Regions from separate parts of the Homo sapiens genome. Here all the other regions are linked to region 2. Evidence: fine-mapped expression QTL. A gene starts in region 2. Each other region holds a variant in brackets. All regions are shown on one strand. Distances are between the middles of the regions.

Region 1 (7,264 bases), 23 kb after region 2:
AGGCGCACACCACCACACCTGGCTAATTTTCGTTTTTGTTTTTGTTTTTTGTAGAGACAGGGTCTCACTGTGTTGTCTAGGCTGATCTCCAAATCCTGGGCTGCAGCCTTGGTTTCCCAAAGTGTTGGGATTACAGGTGTGAACCACCACACCTGCCCAGAAAAAAAAAAAAAAATTTGAGGCAGGATCTCACTCTGTCACCCAGGCTGAAGTGCAGTGGCACCATCTCAGCTCACTGAAACCTCCACCTCCTGGGCTCAAGTGATCCTCCAACCTCAGCCTCCCAAGTAGCTGGGACTACTGGTGCCTATCACCAGGCCCAGCTAATATTTATATTTTTTGTAGAGACAGGGTTTCACCATGTTGATCAGGCTGATCTTGAACTCCTGAGCTCAATGAATCCATCTGCTTCCCAAAGTACTAGGATTACAGGCACGAATCACCTCCCTTGGCCAAAACTTTTTTAATTAAATAAATTTGAGCAACAAAAGACACCACTGAGAAAGTGAACAGAAAACCCACTGAACGGGAGAAAACTTCTATAAATCATGTATTGGATGAGAGATTTGCATCTATGTATAAAGAACTCCTGCAGCTCAATTATAAAGACAACAAACCCAGTTTAAAAATGAGCATAACCAACACGCGTGTGGCCGGCCAGGCACCCGCTCCAGGGTTGAGACAGGAGAGGACTGATTGCTGAATCTCACGTGCTGGCTTTTTCCCTTCTCTCCCAACTCCTGCCCCTCCCAAAGCTGACACCAGAGCAAAGGCTTTGAAGTCCAAAAAGGCAGTGCCGAAGGCGCCCACGGCCACGAAACAGATCTTCCGAAGGCCTTGTGGCTCCAGAGGCAGCACAAACGTATCAGAAGGGCAGCCCCGGAAGAGGCGCTGCTGGCTGTACAGGACGGCATCTGAGCACGGCGCCGGCCTCGGGAGCGACTGCGGCAGAGCTCAAACGGACGCAAGGCCGAAGAGCACCCGGACAGGTGGACTGTGAGATGCCTCAGCCTCTGACGTGGCCCAGGGCAGAGCCAGGTGGGGCCTGATGGGGAGAAGGAGGACGCCCGGGGTGTTGCCAACATCAGGATCATCTCAACAGGAGTCCCGCACAGACATCTACCCAGAGACGATGAGTGAACGGCCAGCGGCAGCAGAGGACTCCCGGCCTCACCAGCGGCTGGGGGAAAAACCGAGGCCGGCGGGAGATGCCCCCGAGGGGAAGGAAGACGAGCACGCTGCCGCTGAGCTCAGGACTCCCAGGGCAGCCACTGGCACGGGAACATCTAAACCCCTGCCCTCTGAAGTCAGAGGCATCCGGCCCCCTCTCACTCTCCTGGGGCTCCTCACTGCCCCCCCAAGATCCCTGTCCTTGCCCTGTCCCAAAGCCAGGTCCAGCCCCCTCGCTGCCCATGCTGTCACTGCTGTCCTGACCGGCTTCCTGCGCCCTGCACTCCTCCGTCTGAGAGCACTTCTGCCCAGCTGCCTCTGCTCACTTGGCGTCAGGGACCATGTCCCCCCAAGGAAATCTTCCCTGAACCCCGGCCCTGGGGCCCCACTATCTCCCTGCCGCTCGGCCCGTGCCCATCCCTGTCACCCTCTGCTAAGATGCAGCTAGCTCTGCGGGAGGACGGGGAACACCCCCAACTCACCGGGTCCAAAAGTTCATCATCCAGCTCCACGCTGCTCATATGTCCGACTCGGAAAAGCGCAGAACGTGGTGACTAAAAGCAGAAGAGAAATCATGAGGGCGCTCAGGCGTCGCACGCTCTGCTCCGTGGATTCTCACTCCCGCCGCCGCACCCTGGCCTCGCCTGACCCTGCCCGGGAGCTCAGGAATGGGCTAGGCCAGGCCTGCCTGCTGGGTGGGGGCAGCAGGGCTGGGACGGGCCTCCCTGGGCCCTGGAAGCAGAACTGATCCGGCTGCCCCTCGGCCTGTCAGCGACACGTCCAGCCCGAGTCCAGGGCGCAAGCTCCCTGCTCTAGACTGAAAGCGAGGCACCTGCCACCCACCAGGAAAGAAGGGCTGGACAACACGCCGCCCCCAATGCAGTGCCCGCCACAGCACCCTGGGCCATCCTGCCCAACCCTGCTCCCGAGGCCCTGCTCAGCCACCTGCCACCTCCACAGAGTCACCTCCACTGCAGCCTCTCTGGGTCTTGAGACACAAACGGCTCCACAGTGTTCACGCTGCCCTCCCCACAGGACGCCCAGCTGTCAGGCAGAGCTGGGTGGGGTCTCAGCCACCTAAGGCTTTGCGGCCGCCCCAGCTCAGGGCAGGGGCAGGGCAGCGGGCCCTGGGTGGCGTGGTGCAGATGTGACTTACGGAGCTCCCACCCCAGTCTCCGGCTCCTTACTAGAGCCAAGGCGCTGAGGCCAGGCTAGGAGGAGCCAAGACCTCAGCCTCCTTTCCCCAAAGAGATCCTTTGGAGACGACTCCAATTTCCACTATCTCCTGAATCTTTAGCAACATCTGGGGACATGAAGGGAAGAAGGGCTGCCTTCCAGGTGGAGGGACCGCATGCGCAGGGCGCCCGCCATCTGCATCAGAGAGCCCGTGCGCCTGTCAGGAAAGTGTTGGCGGAGGAGTCCAGCGGCTGGTACCGGCCGTGGGAAGACCAACGAGGCTGCCGCCCGCCTTCCCTGGGAGCAGCCCTCCCGGCCCCCAACGCCGTCCCCTCCTCATCCCCCCATCTCTCCCTCCACCTTCCTCAGGCTCGGCCTCCCGCACCAGGTTTCAGCAGGGCCTGGAAGTGCTTCTTGGTGATAGAACGGCAGGTGATGGCGCCAGGAGCCCACAGGGCCGAGGTGGGGACGGGGAGACGTGCAGGAACGGCCTGCACTGGGGCCCAGTTTTCCCTCAACCTCCACCTATCCACGGGGATCACGATTACCACACACAGGCAAGGACACAGAAGCAGAGAAGGAAGGTTTGGGATCTGAGGTCACTGCGAGCCAGGGGTGGGGGTCCTGCTTTCTCTGGAGTGCTCACCCCTGAAGGAGACGGGCTCCCCAAACCGCCATCCCAGAAACTGCCTTCAGAACCAGACCTTCCCGGCGGGGTACAGTGGCTCATGCCTGTAATCCCAGCACTTTCAGAGGCTGAGGCGGGCAAATCACTTGAGGCCAGGAGTTCGAGACCAGCTGGGCCAACATGGCGAAACCCCATCTCTACTAAAAATACAAAAAGTAGGCGGGCTACTTGGGAGGCTAAGGCGGGAGAATCGCTTGAAGCCGGGAGGTGGAGTCTGCAGTGAGCTGAGATCGCACCACTGCACTCCAGCCTAGGTAACAGCAAGACTCTGTCT[CAAA/C]AAAAAAAAAAAAAAAAAAAAAAAAAAAAGAACCTGACCTTCCAGCCCACTGCCCTCCAGGGACCCCTTCCCCAACCATCGTCCTGTTACCAGCCACCGTCGCCCTTGCTGTACACCCCCCGTGTTGATGACCCGGTAAGTGGCCCTGGCAGGGGAAGGAACCTGGGCACGTGCCACTGGCCCTTGGCAGACACCAGTCAGAGCCTCCTCCTCTCCCCAGGCAAAGAGCACTCTCAGGCCATCCCCATCAAAAGCCAGGAGCAGAGGCCAGACAGACAGACAGACAGACTCGCAGGTGTCTGCCGTGGCATCTCCACGCCCAGGGGAGAGTGTGGGAGGGGCTAGAGTGCACAGGTCCTGCTGGACACAACCCTGAGTCACAGGGCGCCTGCCCCTCCTCTTCCCCCAGCCTTGCCACATGCCAGTGGCTCTCCCTGAGCCCTCAGTCACAGGCGAAACTCACAGCTTGAGTCTCCTGCCACACGGGCTGACGGTGGGAGGAGGAAGGTGCCACGGTCCAGGCATGATGGAAGCAGTGGCCTGGCCAGCTGCCCACTCCCTCTTGCTCACACTCACATCAAAGCCCCTGGACTCCAGGTCTCACCACCAGAAAACAGCCCTGGGACCAGCGCTGGGCCTCTGACCCCCACCTCCCAGGTGGACAGGTGCCCCGATGCCCCAAACAGAGACCACGGAACCCAAAAGACCCATTTCACCATGAGGAAGGACCCCACGTCCAAACAGGCACCCTGTGGGACACACCCTGCCCAGAGGGCCACCCTCTCCATCACTCAAGATGTCAGCACTTCTCTCTAACGCCACTCAAGGCCTGCCGTGCTTCTCAGGCTATTCCTTGCTGGAAATAACGGATCATTCTGGCCGGACGTGGTGGCTCACGCCTGTAATCCCAGCACTTTGGGAGGCTCAGGCAGGAGGATCGCTTGAGCCCAGGAGTTCAAAGCCAACCTGGACAACGTAGTGAGACCCTGTCTCTACAAAAAATCAAAATCAGCAAGGCATGGTGGCGTGTACCTGTGGCCCAAACTACTCAGGAGGCTGAGGCAAGAGGATCGCTTGAGCCTGGGAAGTCGAGGCTACAGTGAGCTATGGTTGCACCACTGCGCTCCAGCCTGGGCAACACGGCAAGACCCTATCTCTAAAATTAAAAAAAAAAACCCAAACAAAACGAAAACAGCCACAGTCACATGTCCTGGGCGCCAGGCCTGGGAGGCCTTGAGGAGGGCCACCGTCTACACCACGACAGCACTGTCCCACAGCAGCAGGCAGAGCCGCACATGCATTCAGGCCAAGGTGAAGGCTGCCGGTGCAGTATGTGACCAGCGGGCCACCCCCACCGCCGCCGCCTTGGCAGATCCGAGAGGGGTGAGGGGTGAGGGGTTGCCCCCCAGCAGGGCATCAGCTGCCCCTGCCCGGAGTGAAAGGATGGGGCTCCGGCGCCTTGCCTTCCCAGCATCTCTTTCCTTAACTCTGCCAGGACTTTGAGAAGGTGGCTTTCGTAATGGAAGAACACGACGTTTACTTCAAGTTCAGCAATGCATTCCGTGCGGTTACTTTCTTTTTTAAATGCAAGCTCTTATAAATTAAACACTAGATGCTGTTCCTCAAACTCCTGCCACACACGGCAACCTACACGGTCCCAAGCGCCGGACACTAACTAAAAACAGACAGGCTCAGGAACACGTGAGCCAACACTCCCGAGAGGCGAGACTCGGGCCGGACGGGAGGCGAGGTCATCAGGGTTGGGAGTGGGTGGGACTAGAAAGATGGGTCTGAAAATAGCCTGCACCCCCTTCCTGGTGCTTACGCGGATCTACACGCATTGCACCGACACTCTCTTGGTTTTGGGGCTGCGCTGTTACGGAAAGGTAAACATTGGGGGGAAACTCGGTGAAGGGTACACAAGCCCCCTGTGCTACCTTTGCTGCTTCCTGTGAATCCAGAGTGATTTAAAAGTCAAAAAAGGGCTGGGCACAGTGGCTCACGCCTGTAATCCCAGCGCTTTCGGAGGCCAAGGCGGGCAGATCACCCGAGGTCAGGAGTTCGAGACCAGCCTGGCCAACATGAAGCAACCCCGTCTCTACTTAAAAAAAACGAAAAAAAAAAAAAAAAATTAGCCGGGCATGGTGGTGCACACCTGTAATCCCAGCTACTCGGGAGGCTAAGGCAGGAGAACTGCTTGAACCCGGGAGGTGGAGGTTGCAGTGAGCCGAGATCCTGCCACTGTATTCCAGCCTGGGCAACAGAGCAAGACCCTGTCTCAAATAAATAAATAAAATAAAACAAAATAAAAGTCAAAATAATGTATAGAGGGGAACTACATCAAACTTTAAAACTTCTACACATCAAAGAAAACAACAGAGCAAAAGGTAACCTATGAAACGAGAAAATATTTGCAAATGTGATAAGGAATTAATATCTGATAAGGGATTAATATTCAGAATACATAAAAAAACTCAGGGTCAGGGGAGGTGGCTCACGTCTGTCATCCCAGCACTTTGGGAGGCTGAGGCGGGCTGATCACTTGAGGTCAGGAGTTCAAGACCAGCCTGACCAATGTGGCGAAACCCCAACTCTCCTAAAAATACAAAAATTAGCCGGGCATGGTGGTGGGCGCCTGTAATCCCAGCTACTCAGGAGGCTGAGGCAGGAGAATCACTTGAACCCAATAGGCAGAGGTCGTGGTAAGCTGAGATCACACCACTGCCCTTCAGCCTGGGCGACAGAGGGAGACTCCGTCAAAAACAAAAACAAAAATAAACAAAAAACCAAAAACCAAAAACAAACATAAAAAAGCAGCGTCTGAAAGTCCCACTTGCACGCCATGTTCACAGCAGCACCGTTCACAATGACCAAAATGCGGAAGCACCTGCTGTGCCGATGGATGAGTGAGTCAAGGAAATGCAGCCTCTCCCCGCAATGGAATAATTCAGCCATAAAGAGGAATGACCACCGACCCGTGCTGCAGCACGACGGGCCGGAGGACACTGTGCCCCGTGAAATAAGCCAGTCAGAAAAAGACAGCTCCCGCAGGTCCACTCGCAAGAGGGCCCTGGAGCCGTCAGGTCCCCTGAGGCAGATGGCAACGAGGGGGCTGGGCAGCAGGAGGAAGGGAGAGCGTTGAATGGGTGCAGTTTCAGTTTGGCAAGGAATGGGTTGTGTAACACTAAGAGCGTGCTCAACCCTACTGACTGCACTCACGGATGATTAAACGGTCATTAAACAAAATGTTTTTTAGAAACAAGGTCTTGCTATGTTGCCCAGGCTGGTCTCTAAGTCCTGGGCTCAAATAATCCTTCCGCCTTGGCCTCTCAAGTAGCTGGTATGAGAGGCGTGCACCACCATGCCTGGCTCAAAATGGTAAATTTATGGTATGTGTTCTTTACCACAGTTTTTTTTAAAACTTAAAGCAGGATTAAAGACCATTTGCTGTTCTGCTCGGCCTGTGTTGCGTCCTAACATTCAGCAGGCCTCTGCCAGGACCAGGCTAGACGCTAGGCACAGAGGATACAGCAGCTGCCCCGCGGGGGGATGGGGGTTACAGTCAAAGGAAACAAGGTGACACACAAAGGCCACAGAGACCAAGGAGAGGCCTTTGCTGTCCATGCAGTGTCCCCATGGCGTTAAGGCAGAGACCTAAAGCAAGACAGACACTGAACAGCAATGCTGGAGGGCAGGGAAGGGCAGGGGACAGCAGGGGAACCCTCCCAGGCTGGCAGAGGACTTCCTGGAGGCCAGAAAAGAACCAAGGGGCACTTCCTCAAGTACAGCAGAGCTCAAGGGGCCACTGGCGACGACCCCAGACCCTCCCCCGCAGCCTTGCTGCGCCCACAGTTCTTTCTCAGGCTGCGGTCTGTGGCTCCGGGTGCCCAGGCAGGACACAGTCCCACACTAACCCAGACCCCTGCCCTGCCAAGGTCTTATGTGGAGTGTCC
Region 2 (7,264 bases):
CTAACACAGTGAAACCCCATCTCTACTAAAAATACAAAAAAATTAGCCGGGCGTGGTGGTGGGCGCCTGTAGTCCCAGCTACTCGGGAAGCTGAGGCAGGAGAATGGTGTGAACGTGGGAGGCGGAGCTTGTAGTGAGCCGAGATCGTGCCACTGCACTCCAGCCCAGGCAACAGAGGGAGACTCCGTCTTAAAAAAAAAAAAAAAAAAATTAGCCAGGCATGGTGGCATGCGCCCGCAGTCACAGCTACTGGGAAGGCTAAGGCAAGAGGATCACTTGAGCCTGGGGGGTTGAGGCTGCAGTGAGCTGTGATGGCACCACCACGCTCCAGCCTGAACAACCAGGCAATACCCTGTCTCAAAACAAAAAACGAGTGTCGGCCTGGCTTTGCTGCCTCTGGCCCTAGAGAGCACTCAGACACCCGGACTCAGGGAAAGGCAGACGCCCTCATGAGCGGCAGCTCCCCCACACCTGGCACCTTGGGAATCCTCAGCCCAGCACCCCTGCCTGCTCCACACGGCCACTCAGTAACTTCCTGAAGGGCAGTGAGAGGGAGGCTGCCGGCTCCGGGCAGTGGAGCTATGTGGGTGGCAGCTGGGTGCCCCGGCAGTCCTGGCCCCTCACCCAGCGTACTGCCTGATGCGCACGGGAGCTGGCTGCAGTCCCCGGTCTCTATTTGTGGAGCTCAGACCCGGGCTGCTGAAATGTGCAGCTGCCCGTTCCCTCCCCACCCACAGCGGAGGCCCCTGCTGAGGCCACAGCAGGAGGGGGAGCCACTCCAGCCCCGTGGGTGGGACCCTGGCTTCTAGGAACTCGTGTCCTCGAGGAAGGTGAACTCCGCTTTGTGTGCAGGGAAAGGTGGAGCCCGAGAGTGGCCGTGGAAGGGGCTTCGGGGCTGCGATCTGTGGACCCGGGCAGGCGCTGGCTGTGTGGGGAGGGGTGGAGGCGGCAGGACACAGGCAGCTTCCTGGGACGAAGAGCGCCCAGATCTGCAGCTGCCGGCCCCACGTGGCAACTGAGCTTTTTTTTGAGATGAGGTCTCGCTGTGTTGCCCAGGCTGGTCTTGACTTCCCAGGCTCAAGCGATCCTCCCGCCTCGGCCTCCCAAAAGTGCTGGGATTTACAGGCGTGTGCCACTGCACGTGGCCTGAGCTTTTGTTTTTTTGTTTTGTTTTGTTTTTTGAAATGGAGTCTCACTCTGTCACCAGGCTGGAGTGGCGCGATCTCAGCTCACTGTGACCTCCTCCTGCTGGATTCAAGCAATCCTCCTGCCTCAGCCTCCTCAGTAGCTGAGGCTACAGGTGCCCGCCACCACACCTGGCTAGTTTTTTGTATTTTTAGTAGAGATGGGGTTTCACCATGTTGGCCAGGCTGGTCTTGAACTCCTGACCTTGTGATCTGCCCGCCTCAGCCTCCCAAAGTGCTGGGATTACAGGCGTGAGCCACCGTGCCCAAACAACCTGAACTTTTGAAATGGGGCATGTGCGGCTGAGGAATTGAGTTTTACATTGTCTACAACTATAGCTGATTTCAGTGGACACAGATACATGGTGAACGGCCGCTGTATCGGATGGCACAGGCCGAGAGGGTTAGGGTCTCCTCCTCGGCCCTCTGGGCGGCCCCCCTGAAGCCTGGGCCTGGTGGTACCTGCATTCTGGCCACCTCCAGGTCCACCCTCCGGCTGCTGTCCTCTTGGTTCTTCTGCAGGGCGCCGCAGGCCACCTCCCGGCCCTGCTCCTCCTGCTGCAGCAAGTCGGTCAGCTTGGCCAGTCTAGAGAAGTCGGCTGTGGTCACACCAGCCCAGCTGGCCGGAGGGCCCAGCAGGGTGAGGCTGACCCACAGGCTGGCCAGGCAGGAGGTGTACGACCCCCGCCCCCTGCCCCACCAGAAAACAGAGGAATGGGAAACACAGCACCGGTGGCAGGGAAGGGCTGCTGCGAGTCTCTTCCCCACAGAGGGTCCGCAGCGGGCCCAGGCTTCCCAGCACGCTTGGCACCGAGGGCGGTGCCCCGCCGGGTTACTGGGGACACACGGCAGGGGGACCCGTGTCTTGGCTCAGCCAGGGACTCTCAAATGACCCCACGCAAGCTCCGGAGCCAGCCACGGGCGGTGGGCGCCCACCTGAGGCCGGCCTCTTGCTCGGCGCCCCTTCTCTCCGCCTCCTGTTGCACCTGCCTCCTCCTGAGCCGGGTCAAGGCTTCCCGGACCTCCACCAGCCTGGGACACAACAAGCCATTCCCGAGAGGCCCAGGCGGGCTGAGCAGCCTCGGCGGGCTGGGGGTCTGGCCAAGGGGCCCCTGTGGCCACCTCCCATGGCTTTCCTGGGCCTCTGAAGGCCGCCCAGGCACGTACAAACCCGGCCTTTTCTAGCTGGACCTGGATGTGTATCCCCCACTCCAGCGACACCCAGCGGGAGATGTGGACCCCCCACCACACCTGCCGCTGCTTTCTCGCCACCACCTCCCCGCCCTGGGCCTGTGCCCCTAGGTGTGTGGGGGGTACCTTTTGTCCAGGGCCTGCATCTGGTTCTGGAGACCAGAGAACTGCGAGGAGGAAGAGGAGGCTGTGGGCTGGACCTAGGCCCGGGTCTGGCACCTGCCCCTGGAGTCCACCCAGCTCCGGCACCACTGGCCCCTGGGAGCTCTGGGCCTGGGCAGCAGGGGTGAGCTGGGCTCCAGGCCCAGAAGCAGCTGCCCCCAACACCCAGGAAAGGGGCAGCTCGACCTGTGGGTGGGGGAGCCGCTCACCTCCGGCGCCTCCTTTTCGGGGGCCTGGGCTGCCGGCCGCGCCTCCTGCTGCAACTGCCTCAGCTCTGAGCCCTGCAGCTGCACGCGGGCCCGCACCTGGAGCAGCTCCCGCAGCAGGCTCCGCGTGGCGCGCTCACAGCGCTGCTTGTGCTCCCGCAGGCAGGCCACCTCGGCCTGCAGCTCCACCACCCTGGCCGGGGCGAGAGTGGGCGAGTCTGGCGGTGCCCGCCGTGGAGGCGGAGGCGGCGGCGACGTGGTCCTCCCCCGCCAGCACCCCCTGCAGGGCTCACCACTGCTCCAGCTGGTTCCAGTGCTTGGCGGTGTCCTGCTCGGGGACAGAGGCCGTGGATGTCGGATGGCTGGACTCATACCTCTCCGAGAGCTCCTCCAGGCTCAAGGGCTCGGGGCTGGCCAGGCCTCCTGCCAGGAGGAGCCCCAGGTCTTCCAGGGTGACGGCTCTCAGCTGGGAAGGGGCCGATGCCCCTGAGGGTCCACTGTCAGCCAACTCTACAAGGAGGCATCTTGGGAGCTTGCCCCTTGGGGCCCGGCCCCCACTGGAGCTTACGGGAACAAGGCCCCAAACCCCCGCAGGACCCTCGCCCACCACCCAGAGCTCAACGCGTCTCCTTGGGTCACACAGGATCCAGACGGGCTTGGCTCAGACAAGTCCAGGGCCCTGCCTGAAGACACACAGCACTGGGCGGCAGGAACAAGCGAGCTGGAGGGAGCCCGGGGTCAGAAGCAGAGCGGTCCCCACCCTCACACCTGTGGCAAGCCCCTCCCTGGGCCCCGCTCCTCCGCTCTGGTCACCTGACATGGCTGCTGGGCTGCACCGGCCACCCTGCCCTCGGCTGTAGCTTGGGCCTTGGGGCCTCTGAGGTTGCCCAGAGCTGGGCACAGGCCAGGGGGGTCAGGAGCCAGAGGAAGTCCCGTGAGAGCTCTGGGCCTTGAGGGACGAGCTGCTGCCCTCGTCTGGCTGCCTTCTCAGGGTCCCCAGGGAGGCAGGTGTGGGGCAGCGGGGCCGTTCCAGAACCTTCCTTCTCTCCCCAGAACCTCACGGCTTCACAGCCCAACTGCCAATGGAACTCTAGCCCTCAGCTCTCCCACTCCCGCAGGGCCCCCCAACTGCCTGCTTCTGGATGGATCTGAGGGGCCCCACTCCCGAGAGGGCGCAGACACGTGTCCTCTGGCAAAGGGGACTTCTTCAGCTGCCGAGGGAGGGGAAGGAGGCCCTGACGAGGCCTGGGCACGCCGGGAGGGACGCTGGGAGCAGGGAGGCCGAGAGCCCCAGGACACCCCGGACACAGCCAGGCCCACGTCCGAGCGGAGCCCGAGGCCTGGGCAGCGCCATCGGGGTGAGGGGCACAGCCGGGCTCCACGGGAACCCATCTTGCTCAGCAGCCCCATTAAAAGGCAAGAAGCAGCGATGTGAATCCTAACCGCTGATTTTATTTAACCGAATATATCCAAAATATGATCACTTCCAGGTCCTCAGTACACAACCACCACGAGGGAAACCCAGACCTAGGTTTCCGGCGCCGACTCTGAGGCCCGGGAGTTTTCTTCTTGCGTCACCCCAGCGTGGGCACCCCGGCCCGCCCCCCTCCACCTGGAGCGCCTCTGCCTTGCCCCCAGACCCACCAGCCAGGAGCCAGAGGAGGGAGGCTGAGGGGCGGGGACGAGGAAGAGGATGTGGCTGGTGCCCTGGGTGGCCGCAGCCGCTGTCTTTCACGCCTTTCTCACTCCACACGGTGCCCCGACCCCAGGGTCCCGAAAGTCCCAGGCTGTTGGACGTGGTCTGGGTGGGGTGGGAGGGACGACGCTGGCAAAGGCGGGCTGAGAGGATTTCTTTATTTCGCGTTCAGACCCAACACACTCGGACACCTTGGGGCCCTGTGAGGGCTAAGCAGGGTGGTGGCGTCAGCTCCCGGGGAGGCCCCACTCCCTGGGGAGGAAATACACGGCAGGGGGCCGCACCCAGCCCCCCACGGAGGGACCCGTGTTGCTCTAACAGGGACACTGAAGTTGCCTCTGCCGCCCCGTGAGGGGCCTGTGGCGGCCCCAGACCCAGCCCAGCCAGGCCAGAGGAGCCTCCCAGGGGCCCTCAGGTGGTGAGGTGGGGGCTTCCCGGCCCCGGTGCCCACCGGCCCTTCTAGCTGCCTGTGCTGGGCCAGGTGTCCTCTGAGGCCGGCAGGAGTCTGGCCCCCGCTGCACCTGCGCTTGGTGGCTGGCAGGGGCGGGGTAGGGAGGTCACCCTCGAGGCCGGGGTCCCCATGTGCTAGGGGAAGACCTGCCTTCCCAGCCAGTGTCCACAGGGCAGCAATTCCACGCTCTGAGGCTCAGGGACCAAGGCAGGGCTGGGTGTGGGGCCCAGACTCCAAGCTCTGGGGGTTGGGGGACCAAGGCAGGGCTGGGCATGGGGCTCAGGGCCTTGGAGGTTTTTCTCAGCTCTCAACATCACAGCACAGGGCCCGTGAGTCACCCCAGTCCTCTGGGCCTGTGTACCCAAGCCGGATGCAGGCCGGGGAGTGCACGTGGGGCTCCTCTGTGGCGCCAGTGTGAAGCTGCTCTCCGGGGCGGTCGCAGCCTCCAAACCCTGGTGCTACGAGTCCGTGCCTCAGGCCCAGGGACCACAGGCCGTCTGCTCATGGCTGAAAATGAGGCCAAGCAGCTCCCAAGTCTCGAAGACTCCACTGGTGTGGAGGCAGAGGGGCCCTTCCAGGGCAGGGCAGCCCTCGGGGCAGCAGCAGGGGCAAGGGCTCTGTCTCACGCACACGGGCACAGGCACGCAGGTGCCGGCCCTGCCGCTGGCTCCCAAGAGGCCGATAGCCCGGTAGGGAGGTCACACACACACAGCTGATCCCTGGAGGTAAAGAAACCTAGACGAGGAGAGTGGAGGCTGGGCCTGCGCAAGGAGGCGCCAAGGGGGGAGACCACTGCCCACAACAGGGTCAGTCCCGCGAGAGGGTCAGTTCCGCGCCTGCCGCCTGCCCGCCCAGCTGCAGGGTGCTCGCCATTGCCACTGCTGGGGAGCATGGTTTGGGCCGAGAAACCAGTGACTCCGGGAGGAAATGCAGAAGGGCCGGGGTGCCAGCGCCAGTGCCCATTATGGGCAGGGCTGGGCCTCACGTCTGGGCCAGCGAGAGCTCCTCCAAGCCTCTCTTTCCCAGGCGGTACCTGGCGAGGTCCTTCCTGGTCACCAACCCGACAACCTGCAGGACAAGTCCAGGCCACAGTGACACACGGGTCGGCTCCCGCCTGCCTGTGGAGCTCCCTGCCTTGTGTGTGGCTGGGGCAGCACAGGCAGGGGGCCCTGGGGGCTTCAGCACAGCCCCCGAGCTGAGCACGGGGCTGGGGAGGGGTGCAGCCATGGGGCATGGGCCGACTCGGTGCTGGGTCCTGTGCTTCCGTGTCCCCTGCCGGGAGCTGAGAGTAAGCACGGGCAGGAGGCAGAGGGGAGCCCTGCACGGCATGCCTGCACCCCCACCGCCCCCGCTCACCTGATTGCGGTTGTCCACCACCACCAGGTGCCGCAGGCCCAGGGCCCGGAACAGCTTGAACACCCGTGGGAGCGACGCCTCCTGCAGCAGGGGCACAGCTGTCAGTGCCCGCCCACACAGCAGAGGCAGGCGGGACCCTCACCCAAGCTGGCTCCCTGCACCCCCCACCACGGCGTCCAGGCACGTCCTGAGCCCCCACGCCCGTCTGGCCAGCCCCCTCAGCCCCTTGACTTCAGCTCTAAAGCCTGCCAGGCCCTTCACAGGAGACAGAGTCACCGAGTCCTCTCCGCTGTGGCCCCCCCCGGCTGCCCCTCCCCGAGGCTCTGGACCCCACCCCCTGCTGTTCAGTCCCAGGCCCCACGCCCATGCCCATGCCCTGCACATGCCTGGGGCACCGTGTAGGGGGAGGGGTTCATGAACTCGGAGAGGTCCATGGTGCACTCCCGCTCGTCCTGGGACACGTGGATGGACTGGATGGGTGGGAAGCGCGGGTAGGCGTCTCGGAAGTCCTTCAGCCTCAGGCGCCGCTGTACCAGGCCCAGGTTGGACCGCTCCACAAACACCTGCGGGCGGCAGAGCCCTGTGTCAGGCACCCAGGCAGCACCCCCGGGGCCCCCACCCGCCCAATGGCCCGGAGCCTGGCACGCACCTTGTGCTTTAGGAGAACGATGAGCTGGGAGCGCAGGATCAGGCCCTGGAGCCGGGCAGGCTGCAAGACAGGCCCGCGGTCAGGGCCACGGGCCCGAGGGTGGGAGGCTGCGCTGGAATGCTGTGTCGGGCCCCGCTCTGACCCTGTTCCGGCCAGATTTCCCATCTGGGCATGGGCCCCGTGTCGGTGGCTACCTGCTCACACCAGCCTCGCCATGGCATCCCACACGCACAATGCCACGGGACCCAAGGATCGGCGACAGGGTAGCGGGGCCTGACCGCGCACAGCAGAGAGCCAAGGGCCCAGGGATGGTGGCTTTGCTGCAGGGCAGATGCAGCCCCACTGGGTCCCAATAAAAACCAACCTCCA
Region 3 (7,264 bases), 27 kb before region 2:
TGCACTCCAGCCAGAGCAACAAGAGTGAAACTCCGTCTCAAAAAACAAACAAAAAAAAGTGGGAGGTGAAGCAAAATTGGTTTGAGTCACACAAGGGTTACCCCTAAAACACACATAATCCCTCGGGAACTGGCCTGAGAATAGGAAATGCCGCCCCAGCATCCCTGGTCACTAGAAAATTTCAGCGTATAATTACGACTCCCTCTGCAGGGGCCAGGTATGGACACTAAGGCGTCCGCTGAGGGTCCCGGCCGCATCCCCGGGTGGAGGCCCCCCACCTCCGCCCAGGCAGCGGCGCCCCCTCGCGGCCGCTTACTCGTCGCCGTCGGGGCACACGCCGGTGGCTTCGTTGTACTTGGAGCAGTACACGTCGGGGCTGTAGTTGAAGGTGCCGTCGCGCCTGCGGAGGGGCCTGCGGCGCCGCTGGTTGAGGAAGTGCCAGTGGAAGCAGGTGAACGGCCGGTGCTGCGCGCACTTGTGCTGTGAAAACAGGGGGCACTGCTCCGTCCTGAACTCCTTCAGGTACCTACAAACACAGACAGCGCCGCGGCTCGCTTCCGGCAGCACCTCCAGGGACTCGGACTCGTGGGCGGCGGGACCCACCGGCCTCAGGAGCCTCAACCCAGGGTCGACCCGTACTCACATTCCCGGCGGGCCCCAGGCGCTGCGCCCACCCCCATCCCGACTCCAGACGCGACCCTCACCCGACCTCGTAGCCCAGGCGCTGACCCTGGTCCCCAAGCCCAAGCGCCACCCCGGACCCTGGGCGACCCGCTGTGACCTCACGGTCGGCAGCCGGAGCAGAGGGTCCCGGTCCCCGAGCCCAGGCGCAACCCCCAACCCCGGGGCGTTCCTCCCTCCCCAGAGGCGCGTGGACCCCGGAACCAGGTGCCATCCCAGACCATGGGCGCCGCGCTCCGACCTCAGGCGGAGGCCGCCGAGAGCAGAGGGTCGTGGCCCCCCCAGCCCAGGCGCTGCGCGGAGGCCGGGGGGCGCGGGGGCGGCGGAGGCGGCGCGAGCCCCGGCGGGAGGCTCCGAGCTGCACCGGGCGCGGGCGGGGGGCCGCAGGCCGGACGGGCGCTGACCTGTAGTGGGTCGGCTTCTCAGTCTGCGGGGGGGACCCGCTCAGCGCCGCTGCCGCCGCTTTCGAAACCGACGGCATTTTCAGTCAAAACAATGCAGCGCGCATGCGCCGCGCCGGCGCCCCCGCCCCCGGATATCCCCGCGCGCCCCCGCGGCCACGCCCCCCGCGGCCCCGCCCCCAGCCCGCAGACCCCGGCCCCGCCCCAGCCCCGCGCCCCCCGCAGCCCCGCCCCCGGCCCGCAGACCCCGCCCCAGCCCCGCGCCCCGCCCTGCCCTGCCCTGCCCTGCCCTGCCCTGCCCTGCCCTGCCCTGCCCTGCAGCCCCCGGCCCGGGACGCTGGTCCTGCCCGGGGCCGCGCGTGGGACCCGCGATGGTCGCCCCTGCTGTGACATGACCCGACATAACCGTGTATTTTACATGAATTAATCACAAGAGTTGTATCTCAATAGAGCTGCTCTTCCACAAACGAACCAAGAGGCTGATGTCAGGGGGAGCCAGGCACCGGGCGGAAGGGCCAAGGGGTCCTGGCCTTTGTAGAAAGGAATTTGTTCCATTTCGAACCTTGACCTCAAAAACTTATACTCAGAGATTTATCTACAAAGGTAATTATCACAGTTATTTTGCAAACACTTGAGGTCCCCCTTCCCCCAACAGCGCAGTAGCTGAGAAAAGGGAAAACTCTAAGTGCTCTGCGTGATTTGAAACAGTGCTTCCGAAGAATTTTTAGTGGTAGGAGGCCGGGCGCGGTGTCTCACGCCTGTAATCCCAGCACTTTGGGAGGCCGAGGCCGGCGGATCAGCTGAGTTCGGGAGTTTGACAACAGCTTGGCCAACAGTGAAACCCCGTCTCTACTAAACATACAAAAATATTAGTGGGGTGTGGTGGCTTGCGCCTGTAATTCCTGCTACTCCGGAGGCTGAGGCAGGAGAATGGCGTGAACCCGGGAGGCGGAGGTTTAGTAGTGAGCCGAGATTGCGCCACTGCACTCCAGCCTGGGTGACAGAGTAACACCCTGTCTCAAAAAATAAAAAAGAAATTTTTAGTGATATGAAAAATGTGCCCATTGGCCGGGCGCGGTGGCTCACGCCTATAATCCCTGCACTTTGAGAGGCCGAGGTGGGCGGATCACGAGGTCAGAAGATCGAGACCATCCTGGCTAACACGGTGAAACCCCGTCTCTACTAAAAATACAAAAAAAAAAAAAAAAATTACCCGGGCGTGGTGGTGGGCACCTGTAGTCCCAGCTACTCAGGAGGCTAAGGCAGGAGAATCACTTGAACCCAGGAGGCGGAGCTTGCAGTGAGCCGAGATCGCGCCACTGCACTCCAGCCTGGGCAACAGAGCGAGACTCCGTCTCAAAAAAAAAAAAAAAAAAAAAAAAAAAAAACGAAAAGAAAAATGGGCCCATTTAGGTTGAAAGCAAATCACTTCCTACAGATTTGTTCCAAGTATCTCAGGGTTTTTTTTAATATTAATACTGTAAAACAACAAAAACTATCATTTGCTGGTAGGATAAATTTCTTCATAGGTTCACATTTTCTTTTTCTTTTGGCGGGGGGCGGGGGGAGGAAGGAGTTTTGCTCTTGTTGCCCAGAGTGGAGTGCAATGGCACGATCTCGGCTCACTGTTGCAACCTCCGCCTCCTAGGTTCAAGGAATTCTCCTACCTCAGCCTCCTGAGTAGCTGCGATTACAGGCATGCACCACCGCGCCCAGCTAATTTATTTTTCGTAGAGACGGGGTTTCTCCACATTAGTTAGGCTGATCTCGAACTCCCGACCTCAGGTGATCCACCTGCCTCAGCCTCCCAAAGTGCTGGGATTACAGGCGTGAGCTACCGCGCCAGCCAGGATCACATTTTCTTAATGAATTATCTCTACAAACATTACATTTAAATCTTAAAATGATAATGAAGAACATATTTTCAAGTGAAGTCAAGCAGGAAAATGAAGTCAAGCAGGAAGGGCAGGGCCTGCAAATTCTTCAGAGACGAATAAACAGATCTTGAAGACTCCCAAGGTGCTAGGAATGGAAAGGGAGTCTAGGGTGACGCCCAGGTCTCTCGCTTGCAAGGATACAGAGCAAGGGAGAAGAAACAGGTTTGGGGGAGATGAATTCCATTTTGGAGTTTAAGGAGCCTGTGAGCTGTCCAGCAGAGGTGTCTAGGGAGCCTGCTAAAGCTAGGAAACAGATTTGGAGCCTTAGGGTTTAGGAATTTGGGGATCTTTGCTGTAAAGGTATGAGTGAAGACACCTGCTGTTCCTCCACACCCTGGGGGCATCTTCCTTGAAGAAATCAAAGGAAACTGATGTAAGACTTAAGGATTGAAAGTATCATGTTTTTTCATGCTTTGGAAGAAATGTTCTTTAAAGTCTAGGGTGGTACCTGAGTTATATAGACAGTTCATCAGCTTAGACGTGACCATTTGGTTAACACCTTCCTTGAAAGAATTTTTTGTTTTTGTTTTTGAGATGGTTTGGTTAACATCTTCCTTGAAAGA[A/AT]TTTTTTTTTTTTTTTTTTTTTCTGAGACAGAGTCTCACTCTGTCGCCCAGCCTGGAGTGCAGTGGCATGATCTCAGCTCACTGCAAGCTCCACCTCCCGGGTTCAAGCCATTCTCCTGCCTCAGCCTCCTGAGTAGCTGGGACTACAGGCGCCCGCCACCACGCCTGGCTAATTTTTTCTATTTTTAGTAGAGACGGGGTTTCACCATGTTAGCCAGGATGGTCTCGATCTCCTGACCTTATGATCCGCCCGCCTCGGCCTCCCAAGGTGCTGGGATTACAGGCATGAGCCACTGCGCCCGTTCAAGAATTTTTGTTTTAAAACAATTTCCGGCTGGGTGCAGTGGCTCACACCTGTAATCCTAACACTTTGGGAGGCCAAGGTGGGTGGATTACCTGAGGTCAGGAGTTCAAGACCAGCCTGGCCAACATGGTGAAACCCCGTTTCTACTGAAAATACAAAAAAAAATTGCTGGGCGCAGTGGTGCACGCCTGTAATCCCAGCTACTCAGGAGGCTGAGGCAGGAGAATTGCTTGAACCCGGGAGGCAGAGGTTGCTGTGAGCCGCGATCGTGCCACCACACTCAAGCCTGGGTGACAGAGCGAGACTCCGTCTCAAAAAAAAAACAAAAAAACAAAAAACAATTTCCACCTCCTGCCCAGCCATTTGTCATCTTAGGAATCGCTGCAGCTGCGTCTGTTCTAGCATGCTTACAATGGTCTCCCTCTCAAATGCTTATCTGGGGAGGTCAGTGTGCCATGTACCCTGGGGAAAATAAAAGCTACAGCCCAGTTGGGAAAACAAGACAAACACACTACAAAAATAGTTAAATACAACTGGGCGCAGTGGCTCCTGCCTGTAATCCCAGCACTTTGGGAGGCCGAGGTGGGCAGATTGCCTAAGGTCAGGAGTTCAAGCCTGGCCAACATGGTGAAACCCTGTCTCTACTAAAAATAGAAAAATTAGCCGGGCATGGTGGTGCACGCCTGTAATCCCAGCTACTCAGGAGGCTGGGGCGGGAGAATTGCTTGAACCCCGGAGGCGGAGGTTGCAGTGAGCCAAGACTGTACCATTGCACTCCAGCCTGGGCAACAGAGCAAGACTCCATCTCAAAAAATAATAATAAATACTAACTGTACTGAATTAACTGTTCACCTATCAACCTGCTCTGTTGCCATCCTTTGAAAACTCCAGGAGTAGGGAAGATCCGCCCACCATCCCCAGCTGGCCTTGGGTCTGTCTACGGCACAGGTGTGAGGTCAGCAACTGGAAAAGCCCTCCCAGATCGCTGCCCTGGAGGCACTTGGGATCTGCTGCATGTCTCTGAAACATGTATAGGTATATATGTATGAAAACAATTGACCGGGCGCAGTGGCTCATGCCTATAATCCCAGAACTTTGGGAGGCCAAGGCGGGCAGATCACTTGAGGTCAGGAATCTGAGACCAGCCTGGCCAACATGGCGAAACCCCGTCTCTACTAAAAATACAAAAATTAGACGGGTGTGGCGGTGCGTGCCTGTAATCCCAGCTACCCTGGAGGCTGAGGCAGGAGAGTCGCTTGAACCCAGGAGGTGGAGGTTGCAGTGAGCCAAGATGGAGCCACTGTACTCTAGCCTAGGTGACAGAGCAAGACTCAATCTCAAAAAAAAAAAGAGAAAACAATCTGGGGCCGGGCGCGGTGGCTCCCATCTGTAATCCCAGCACTGTGAGAGGCCGAGGAGGAGAGATCACTTGAAGTCAGGAGTTTGAGACCAGCCTGGCCAACATGCCAAAAGCCCGTCTCTACTGAAAATTTAAAAATTATCCGGGTGTGGTGGCACAAGCCTGTAGTTCTAGCTACTCGGGAGGCTGAGGCAGAAGAACTGCTTGAACCCAGGAGACAAGAGGTTGCAGTGAGCCAAAATTGTGCCACTGCACTCCAGTCTGGGAGACAGAGTGAGACCCTGTCTCAAAAATAAAAACAAAACAAAACAAAACAAAAAAACAAAAAACAATCACTTAGGTAACCCAAAATAGTGCCCATCATTTGTGAAAAGAAATACTCACTAGTTGTATTCTACTCAGAAAATGGTTGCCTTGCTTAAAAAGTTTTGCAGAAAACTGCAAAAGTTCCTCATTTCTGGTACTATTCGGTAATATATATGTAGGTTTCTTTCCTCAGTTCCCACTCTGGAAAAAAAAAAAAAAAGGAAAACGAAACTTTTTTTTTTTTTTTGAGACGGAGTCTCGCTTTGTCGTGCAGGCTGGAGTGCAGTGGCGCGATCTCGACTCACTGCAAGCTTCGCCTCCAGGGTTCACGCCATTCTCCTGCCTCAGCCTCCGGAGTAGCTGGGACTCCAGGGGCCCGCCACCACGCCCGGCTAATTTTTTGTATTTTTTAGTAGACACAGGGTTTCACCGTGTTGGCCAGGATGGTCTCGATCTCCTGACCTCGTGATCCGCCCGCCTCAGCCTCCCAAAGTGCTGGGATTACAGGCGTCAGCCACCGCGCCCGACCGGAAAAGGAAACTTTTAAAAATAGCTGCTGGTGCAACTAACTTACGTGCTCTGGTAAACAAGAAGAGATTAAAATAAAAAACAATAGCTGCCCAAATACCCCCTTTTTAAAAACTAGATGCAAAAAAAGGGAATCATCTAATCCCATATTATAAAATTAAAATTTATTTTCATTTGTTGTTGTGTAAAACTCACATGTGGAAGTGTTCCTTGCACAGGCCGCAGCATGCAATACAGTTTCACACTTCTGCCAGATATTCTATCTCAGAAAGCAAATTACCTGCAAACTAACACTGGATGACAAGTGTCACCAGAAGTGCTTTGGAAACATGATTATGTTATACAAAGACTTGGCAAATCCAACAGCATACAGTGCAACTGAAACCTTCCCCAAGGATCTGAGAAGTCTTGCCGATGGAATCCTTGGACATCAAGAGCCAGGCGAGGAGCAGTTTCCGATCTGCTGAGATTCTGCTCCGCCTTCACGCGAATCAGCATAGCCAAGTGCCCCATCCACCAGCCAAGTCCTTCAGTGCTGAGGACGCACGCATAGCCAGGACAGTCACGGGCAAACGTGACATCAAATCCGAAGGGCGGCTGTCGGCTCCCTTCCTGCCAGCCCCAGCGGGCACCCCGTCAAGTTCTCGCTCTGTAGGCAGCTGGAGTCTCAGGCTCCTCAGAACGATCACTGGGCTCTGGCACCTCTCCCCACACCTGTCTCAACCACTGGTCCGCCTCGCTCTCCTCCCTCAGGTAGCACCAGATGATCAGCGCCACGAGGAAGCAGCTGAGGGGCAGCACCTTCCACCAGGGCCGCTGATGTCCCTTTCCCATGGTATGGCCCACCGACCAGCGGTGAGGGTTGGCTTTGCTGGAGGAAAACTCAATGGGGCGGTCAGGGTCGTCCTCTTCCTCGGCGGCAGGGTGGGCCCGATCCCGGGAACCGGGCAACGGATGAAGGCTTCGGGAAGCCCAGCCTATGAGCCTCAGCGCCCGGACGGCCCTGGAAGAGAGAGAGCAGTAAGCGCTCCGCCCGCCCGCCGGTGTCTGCCCTCGGCCCTCCGAGACCTTGAGGAGCTCACCCGGCCGCCGGGGCACACAAGACACGATTCATTGCTGCCTTGACTCCTCGACTGACGCCTTGGCGCGCCGTGATAGCGTCACTTCCGTCGCCGGAAACCGGA
Region 4 (7,264 bases), 31 kb after region 2:
AGGCTCCACAGCGCATCCCAAACACACACTCCCTCTGTCCTTTCCCCCCGTCCGCCTGCCTGAAGATCTTGTGCTCTTCAAGCCCAAGCCTTGTGACTGCTCCTGCCCCAGGGGCCCTGCAGACCATCCGCACAGGGCACTGGGCCTGTCTCCAGCAGGAAGGAAGCAGCTTTATGCGCCTGCGTCCCAGGCAGCCACAGAGCAAGTGCACGATAAACTATTTTTTAAATTGCTTGTAAGCAGAGTATCCGCTGTTATTAAATGCAAACAAACAAATAAGCTTACAATGACTTTTAAGGGAATAGTTTTTTTATTTTTATTTTTGAGATGGAGTTTTGTTCTTGTTGCCCAGGCAATGGCGTGATCTCGGCTCAGTGCAACCTCTGCCTCCTGGGTTCAAGCGATTCTCCTGCCTCAGCCTCCTGACTAGCTAGGATTACAGGCGCTCACCACTATACTCGGCTAATTTTTCTATTTTTAGTAGACATGGGGTTTCACCATGTTGGCCAGGCTGGTCTCGAACTCCTGACCTCAGGTGATCCACCTGCCTCGGCCTCCCAAAGTGCTGGGATTACAGGCATGAGCCACCGTGCACAGCCGGGAATACTTTCTAAGGTTAAGAGATCAACAGATTATTTCCCAAAAAATCAACTCTTCTATTTGCAAAGACAGACAGGAAACCCCAAGCACATTCAGTCCCAAGAGAAACTCAAATTCAACCTCCATCAAGGTTCCTAATCTTTACCTTTCAGCCCTTAAAGTTGGGTTTATTCCTTCTACCTTGTGAACTTCAGATTTCTTTAATTAAAAAAATTTTTTTTAAATTTTTTGAGATAGGTTCTCAAACTCCAGCCTGGGCAAAAGAGTGACAAACTACCTCGGAAAAAAAAAAAAAAAAGCACCTCACTGCAGCTTCAACCTCCTGGGCTCATGCGACTCCTCTGCCTCAGCCTCCCGAGCCAGTAGCTGGGACTACAGATGCATATCACCACACCTGGCTAATTTTGTTTTTTTTTTTTTGAGACAGGGTTTCACTATTTTGCCCAGGCTGGTCTTGAACTTCTGGGCTCAAGTGATCCTCCCCTACCTTGGCCTCCCAAAGTGCTAGGATTACAGGCATGAGCCACCACACCTGGCCTTTCTTTTAAAACAGAAACACACACACACACACACAGAGGCATACACATACACACACAGGCATACACACAAATAACTAATCACCCATGGCCCCATCACTTCAAATTAACCCCTTCAGATCACTTTTCATGCAGACTACAGCACGGAGAGCAGGAGGGCCCACTTCAAAGGGAGCTGAGCTGCTGCTTCTTATCAGCAAAAGGCAGACTATGACCTTCTTTGTCTGGTGCGTTTCTAAGGAATTGGGAAAACCTAAATGTAGGTTCTATGGAAACAGGCTGATTTTCGTGTCCTTCCTAAACTTTTTTTTTTTTTTTTTTTTTTTTGAGACGGAGTCTCGCTCTGCCCAGGCTGGAGTGCAGTAGCGCCATCTCCGCTCACTGTAAGCTCCGCCTCCCGGGTTCAATTGATTCTCCTGCCTCAGCCTCCCGAGTAGCTGGGACTACAGGCGCCCGCCACCACGCCTGGCTAATTTTTTGTATTTTTAGTAGAGACGGGGTTTCACCATATTAGCCAGGATGGTCTCAATCTCCTGACCTCATGATCCACCCGCCTCGGCCTCCCAAAGTGCTGGGATTACAGATGTGAGCCACCGTGCCCTGCCGTCCTTCCTAATCTTTAAGCACAAGACAAGTGTTTAAAGGACTAGACAAGAGAAAATGTAAAGAATAACTGCAAAGCAGATTAAGACCCATCAACAAAACGGTCCATTAACTCAAAAGTAACACAATACGGCCAGGCGCAGTGGCTCACGCCTGTAATCCCAGCACTTTGGGAGGCTGAGGTGCGGGGGATCACGTGAGGTCGGGAGTTCGAGGCCAGCCTGACCAACACGGAGGAACCCCGTCTCTACTAAAAATACAAAATTAGCCGGGCGCGGTGGCGCACGCCTGTAATTCCAGCTACTCAGGAGGCTGAGGCAGGAGAGTCACTTAAACTCGGGAGGTGGGGGTTGCAGTGAGCCGAGATCGCGCCATTGCACTCCAGCCTGGGCAACTACAGTGAAACTCCGTCTCAAAAAAAAAAAAATATTAAGACAATACACAGACAGGGAAACAAATGTACCCGCAACGGTTCTCCAGACCTTAACACTGCTCAGACGCACGCTGCAGGGTGACATGCGGAACGCATTCCAACCTCTGACTTGCTGCTTATTGTGTTTGCCTGCACATTGCAAATTCAACTCGGTGCGAAGGGAGACTGAGTACAAATACTCGTCACTCCCAAGATCACCTGAAAGTCGGGACTGATCCCCACACAGAAAGATGGCAGATAAAGGCGCTCAGTCATTCTCACTGAAAGACAGTGACCCGGCTGCAATCTTAACTGTTTCCATCTCCCAGGGGGTCAAAAACGCAAACAAAATTAGTTGCTCGTGTAGGATGACAATTTTTAAAAGTCACCTGAACAGAAAGCCACTTGCACCCCTTTAGGGCCAGTCTGGGGGACACCGGAGGGAATGAACGTGCGCCACGGCTGCCCCGGCGCCCCTCAGCGCCCCACATTCCGCGGGGTCTGGCGAGCTCCGCCTCGCCCACGCAGCCCTCCCGGCCACCGAGCCCGGCGCGGCCTCCGAAGACTCCAGACCCCAGGCGCCCCCGCCAGCCCGGCCCCGCCGAGGAGCCCCGGGGCGCGTTCCCGAGTCCACCGCGCCTCGGTCGCCTCCAGGACCGAGACACGCGGCGCCGCCAGAAGGCTCACGAG[G/GGCGC]GCGCGGGCTGCGGGGCGCACGAGGGCTCAGTTTCCCCGCCTGCGCCCTGCCCGGCCTCACCTGGCGCGCAGCCCCAGGCCCAGCCCCGTTCAGCAGCGGCGTCCCCCCGCCGGGCCGCGCCGTCCTCCGCAGCAGCGGCGCCGCCTCCTCGTCGTCCCGGTCCCGGCCGGACCAGGACACCTTCTTAGAGACGTTGGCCATGGCCCGCCGCGGAGCGACACCGGCCGGGAAGCGCCGGCTGCCCCCGTGTTTGTTCTCGTGACCCGCGCCGGCGGCCACGTGACGCGCGACGGGGCCACGTGATGAGCGACGGCGACCATGTGACCTGCAACGGCAACCACCGAGGCCCGGTCGCGCGGGGGCTCCTGGGAGCCGCGCTCCCGGCGGGTCGTGGCGCCGCCCGCCCTAGAGAATCGCCGCGGCCCTGAGGACCCCGTTCTGCCCACGCGACTGCAAAGGCGGCCCCGTTGGGCTGAGCGCCGAGTGCTTGGGAGGCGAATGGCCGCCCCCGGGACCTCGGGCCCGGGAGTCGGGGCGAGGGAAGCGCCCGGGGCCTGAGGGCAGGAGCCGGCTGGAGGGGCTCCCCCAGGCCCGGTCGCCCGCGCCGATCGTGACGGAGCCGCGGTGGGGAAGGGAGGAGGGAGGCAGGGGCGAGGGCAGGCCTTTCCTTGCCATAGGCGGCGGCTAAAGACGTGAAGGATGAAATTAGAAGTCCCGAAGCATGCATCCGCCCTCGCAGTAGGCACTCGGGCGAGGGTCGGAGTGGAGGCTTCCTCCAGGCAGCCCCAGAGGGTCCTCCCGCCTAATGAGAAAAGAACAGAAGGCGAGTCCTCTTCAACGATCAGGCCCCAGAGACAGTACAGGAGGGTCGCCTCTGGAAACTGCCGGCTACTACGCAGATAGCTGTGAATTAGCCAAATAGCCGCCCGGACCCTGTACCCGCACCAGGGCACAGCCCATCACTAATCAATGGTATTTCCATAAACCAAAGAGAATTCTTGACAGCTTTACATCAGCCCCCACCCTGTCCCCACCTTCTGGGTCATTTATTTATTTATTTTGAGACAGGGTCTCCTTCTGTCGCCCAGGCTGGAGTGCGGTGGTGCGGTCACAGCTCAGTGCAGCCTTGACCTCCTGGACTCAAGCCATCCTCCCGCCTCAGCCTCTGGAGTAACAGGGACCACAGGCCTGCACCACCACACCCGGCTAATTTTTGCTGTGGAGCTCACAGTGTGTTGCCCAGGCTGTTCTCAAACTTCTGACCTCAAGTGATCCTTCCACGTTAGCCTCTAGAGTAAACTCTTTATATTTTGTGCCTCATCCTCTTCCTTTTAAAAGGTCGATATTTTTATTATTGAGACGGAGTCTCACTCTGTCGCCCAGGTTGGAGTGCAGTGGCCCAATCTCGGCTCACTGCCTCCCGGGTTCATGCCTCAGCCTCCCGAGTAGCCGGGACTACAGGCGCCCGTCACCATGGCCGGCTAATTTTTTGTATTTTTAGTACAGATGGGGTTTCACTGTGTTAGCCAGGATGGTCTCGATCTCCTGACCTCGTGATCCACCCGCCTCGGCCTCCCAAAGTGCTGAGATTACAGGCGTGAGTCACGGTGCCCGGCCTTTTTTTAAATTATTATTATTATTTTTTTATTTTTGAGACACAGTCTCACTTTGTCACCCAGGCTGAAGTACAATGACAAGATCATAGCTCACTGCAGCCTTGACCTCTTGGGTTCAAGGGATCCTCCTTCCTCAGCCTCCTGAGTTGCTAGGACTCTTCGTATGAGCCACCATGCCCGGCCATGGTTGGCATTTCTTTTTTCTTTTTCCTTCTTTTTTTTTTTTTTTTTTGAGACGGAGTTTCACTCTTGTCACCCAAGCTGTAGTGCAATGGCGCTATCTTGGATCACTGCAACCTCCGCCTCCTGGGTTCAAATGATTCTTCTGCCTCAGCCTCCCGAGTAGCTGAGATTACAGGCACCCGCCACCACACCTGGCTAATTTTTCTTTTTTTTGTTTCCTTTTGGTTTTTTTTGAGACAGAGTGTCGCTCTGTTGCCCAGGCTGGAGTGCAATGGCGTGATCTTGGCTCACTGCAAGCTCCGCCTCCCGGGTTCACGCCATTCTCCTGCCTCAGCCTCCCAAGTAGCTGGGACTACAGGCGCCCGCCACCACGCCCGGCTAATTTTTTGTATTTTTAGTAGACCCGGGGTTTCACCGTGTTAGCCAGGATGGTCTCAATCTCCTGACCTTGTGATCCGCCTGCCTTGGCCTCCCAAAGTGCTGGGATTACAGGCATGAGTCATGGCGCCAGGCCTAATTTTTGTATTTTTAGTAAAGATGGGATTTCTCCACGTTGGCCAGGCATGTCTTGAACTCCTGACCTCAGGTGATCCACCCACCTTGGCCTCCCAAAGTGCGGGGATTACAGGAATGAGGCACCGTGCCCGGCCCAGGGTCAGCATTTCTTAACGGTGAAGGGAAAAAAGAAACCTAGCAGGCGCCACCTGAACCAAGCAACCCAGTTCAGCATTGCTGGTGATGGGATAAGGTGGCATCGTGTGCCTCCTGATGTGATGCACCAGGAAGGACACAACGTCCCTTCCGGAGCATTCCTGCAAAACATGCTCACCTTGAGTCCACTCATAAAGGGGAAACACCAGATAATCCCACTTTGAGGGACAGCCTGCTGAACATCTAGGCCATCTTCTTCCACAATGTCAGTATTGTGAAAGAGACAAAGAGAGGCTGAGGAGACAACCTCACGTGGGTCTGGCATGGTTGAGACAATTGGCAAAGATTGGACATACACTGTATGAGCTAACGGTGTTGGAGCAGTAGTAAATCTCCCACGCGTGATCATTATATTGTGGTTACGTCAGGAAAGCTCCCCGATCTTAGGAGATACATACTGAAATACTTGGGACCTTGTGTTGCTATGTCTGCAGCTTACACTCGGACAATTCAAAACCTGACAATAATCATAATGAGTAGCAGCCTTCTGAGAGGGAGGGAAAATGGCAATGTTAACATCTGGCCCTTGGCTGTCTGCACCACCATGCAGCAGGCAAGAACGAGCACCTTAACCGAAGTGGCAGGAAGGGAGCCAAGAAGAAAGAGGTTGGTCCACTGTCTGAGAGAGACTGGCATGAGGCGAAAGCACCAGCTGTGCTTGGCATAAGGAGTATGGAAAACACCAGGCACAGGGACGTCAGGAACCAAAATCACACCCGATGGCCTCAAGGGCCGTGTTTTTGAAGTCAGTACTGCTCATCTGCAGAATGGTGAAGTTGCATCTGGAAAATTCAAGCTAATCACTGAGGATGTTCAGTGCAAAAACAGCCTGACCAGCTTTCATGGAAAAAAAAAAAGACCATGATTGAAGCTCATATGGTTGTCAAAACTACAGATGATCATTTGCCTCATCTGTTCTGTGCTGCTTTTACTAAAACAGTGCAGCAAGCAGATTGGGAAGACCTCTCACAGGCAGCACTGGCAGGCCCGTCAAATCCAGAAAAGATGGTGGAAATCATGGCCCAAGAGGTGCAGACAAATTACTCGAAAGAAGTGGCCCATGAATTGATGCTAGACAGCACTGGGAGAGACACAGAGAAGGTTCCCCAGTCTATCCAGGTATCCTCTCCAGGATGTCTTCCTTAGAAAAGTAAAAATGCTTGGGAAGCCCAGGCTTGCATTGGGAAAACTCAAGCTTTGTGGTGAAGGTCGCTGTCCTGGAAAAGCTACTGGGGATGAGACCAGTGCTAAATGTGAATGAGCTGACGGATATGAGCCCCCAGCCCAACAACCTGTTTAAAATTCAGGCTTTGAATGTTGATAACCAAACTAACATTTGACCCAGCAATCCCCTTACTGGGTGTATGCCCAAAGGAATATAAATTGTTCTATCATTAAAACACATGCAGGCCAGGCGCAGTGGCTCACACCTGTAATCCCAACACTTTGGGAGACTGAGGTAGGTAGATCACTTGAGGTCAGGAGTTTGAGACCAGCCTGGCCAACATAGTGAAACCCCATGTCTACTAAAAATACAAAAATTAGCCAGGTGTGGTGGCAGGCGCCTATAACCTGAGCTACTTGGGAGGCTAAGGCAGGAGAATCGCTTGAATCCAGGAGATGGAAGTTGCAGTGAACTGAGATTGCACCACCTCACTCCAGCCTGAGTGACAGAGCGAGACTCTGTCTCAGAAAAAAAGCAAAACCAAAAACACACGCACGCGTGTGTTGATTGCAGCACTATTCACAATAGCAAAGACATGGAATCAACCTAAATGCCCATCAGTGGTGGACTGGATAAAGAAAATGTGGTACATGTATACCATGAAATACTATGCAGCCATAAAAAAGAATGAGATCGTGTCCTTTGCAGGCACATGGATAGAGCTGGAGGCCATTACCCTTAGTAAAC

What was found. PIP is the estimated chance that this variant, and not a neighbour inherited with it, causes the effect.
Region 1: its variant is fine-mapped to the expression of CCDC154 in whole blood (INTERVAL, PIP 0.98).
Region 3: its variant is fine-mapped to the expression of CCDC154 in monocytes after R848 (Quach 2016, PIP 0.95).
Region 4: its variant is fine-mapped to the expression of CCDC154 in breast (GTEx, PIP above 0.99).

The regions. Positions count from the first base shown.
Region 1 is chr16:1,463,615-1,470,878 of GRCh38, forward strand. It overlaps CLCN7 (chloride voltage-gated channel 7), which reads right to left. Exons shown (of 25, transcript NM_001287.6): 2 at 1,653-1,724. Among named protein-coding and RNA genes, the nearest start is that of CLCN7, 7.8 kb to the right of the region's middle. The variant CAAA/C (reference allele first, on the strand shown) is at 3,309.
Region 2 is chr16:1,440,760-1,448,023 of GRCh38, forward strand. CCDC154 (coiled-coil domain containing 154) reads right to left here and starts at 3,797. Exons shown (of 17, transcript NM_001143980.3): 1 at 3,557-3,797; 2 at 3,037-3,253; 3 at 2,747-2,936; 4 at 2,502-2,542; 5 at 2,121-2,216; 6 at 1,647-1,770. The coding sequence starts at 3,563. CLCN7 (chloride voltage-gated channel 7) reads right to left here. Exons shown (of 25, transcript NM_001287.6): 22 at 6,896-6,955; 23 at 6,633-6,809; 24 at 6,247-6,327; 25 at 4,176-5,958. The coding sequence ends at 5,872.
Region 3 is chr16:1,413,530-1,420,793 of GRCh38, forward strand. It overlaps UNKL (unk like zinc finger), which reads right to left and starts at 1,175. Exons shown (of 15, transcript NM_001372107.1): 1 at 1,086-1,175; 2 at 317-526. The coding sequence starts at 1,162. It overlaps UQCC4 (ubiquinol-cytochrome c reductase complex assembly factor 4), which reads right to left and starts at 7,218. Exons shown (of 2, transcript NM_001272051.2): 1 at 7,163-7,218; 2 at 6,223-7,083. The coding sequence starts at 7,194. The coding sequence ends at 6,717. RefSeq lists enhancers at 76-650, 651-1,225, 1,226-1,800, 1,801-2,374, 6,509-7,264 and 3 more and silencers at 170-319, 750-799, 1,340-1,459, 1,510-1,579. The variant A/AT (reference allele first, on the strand shown) is at 3,583.
Region 4 is chr16:1,471,932-1,479,195 of GRCh38, forward strand. It overlaps CLCN7 (chloride voltage-gated channel 7), which reads right to left and starts at 3,097. Exons shown (of 25, transcript NM_001287.6): 1 at 2,903-3,097. The coding sequence starts at 3,043. It also overlaps the pseudogene RPS3AP2. RefSeq lists silencers at 2,840-3,049, 3,170-3,519 and an enhancer at 3,057-3,600. The variant G/GGCGC (reference allele first, on the strand shown) is at 2,842.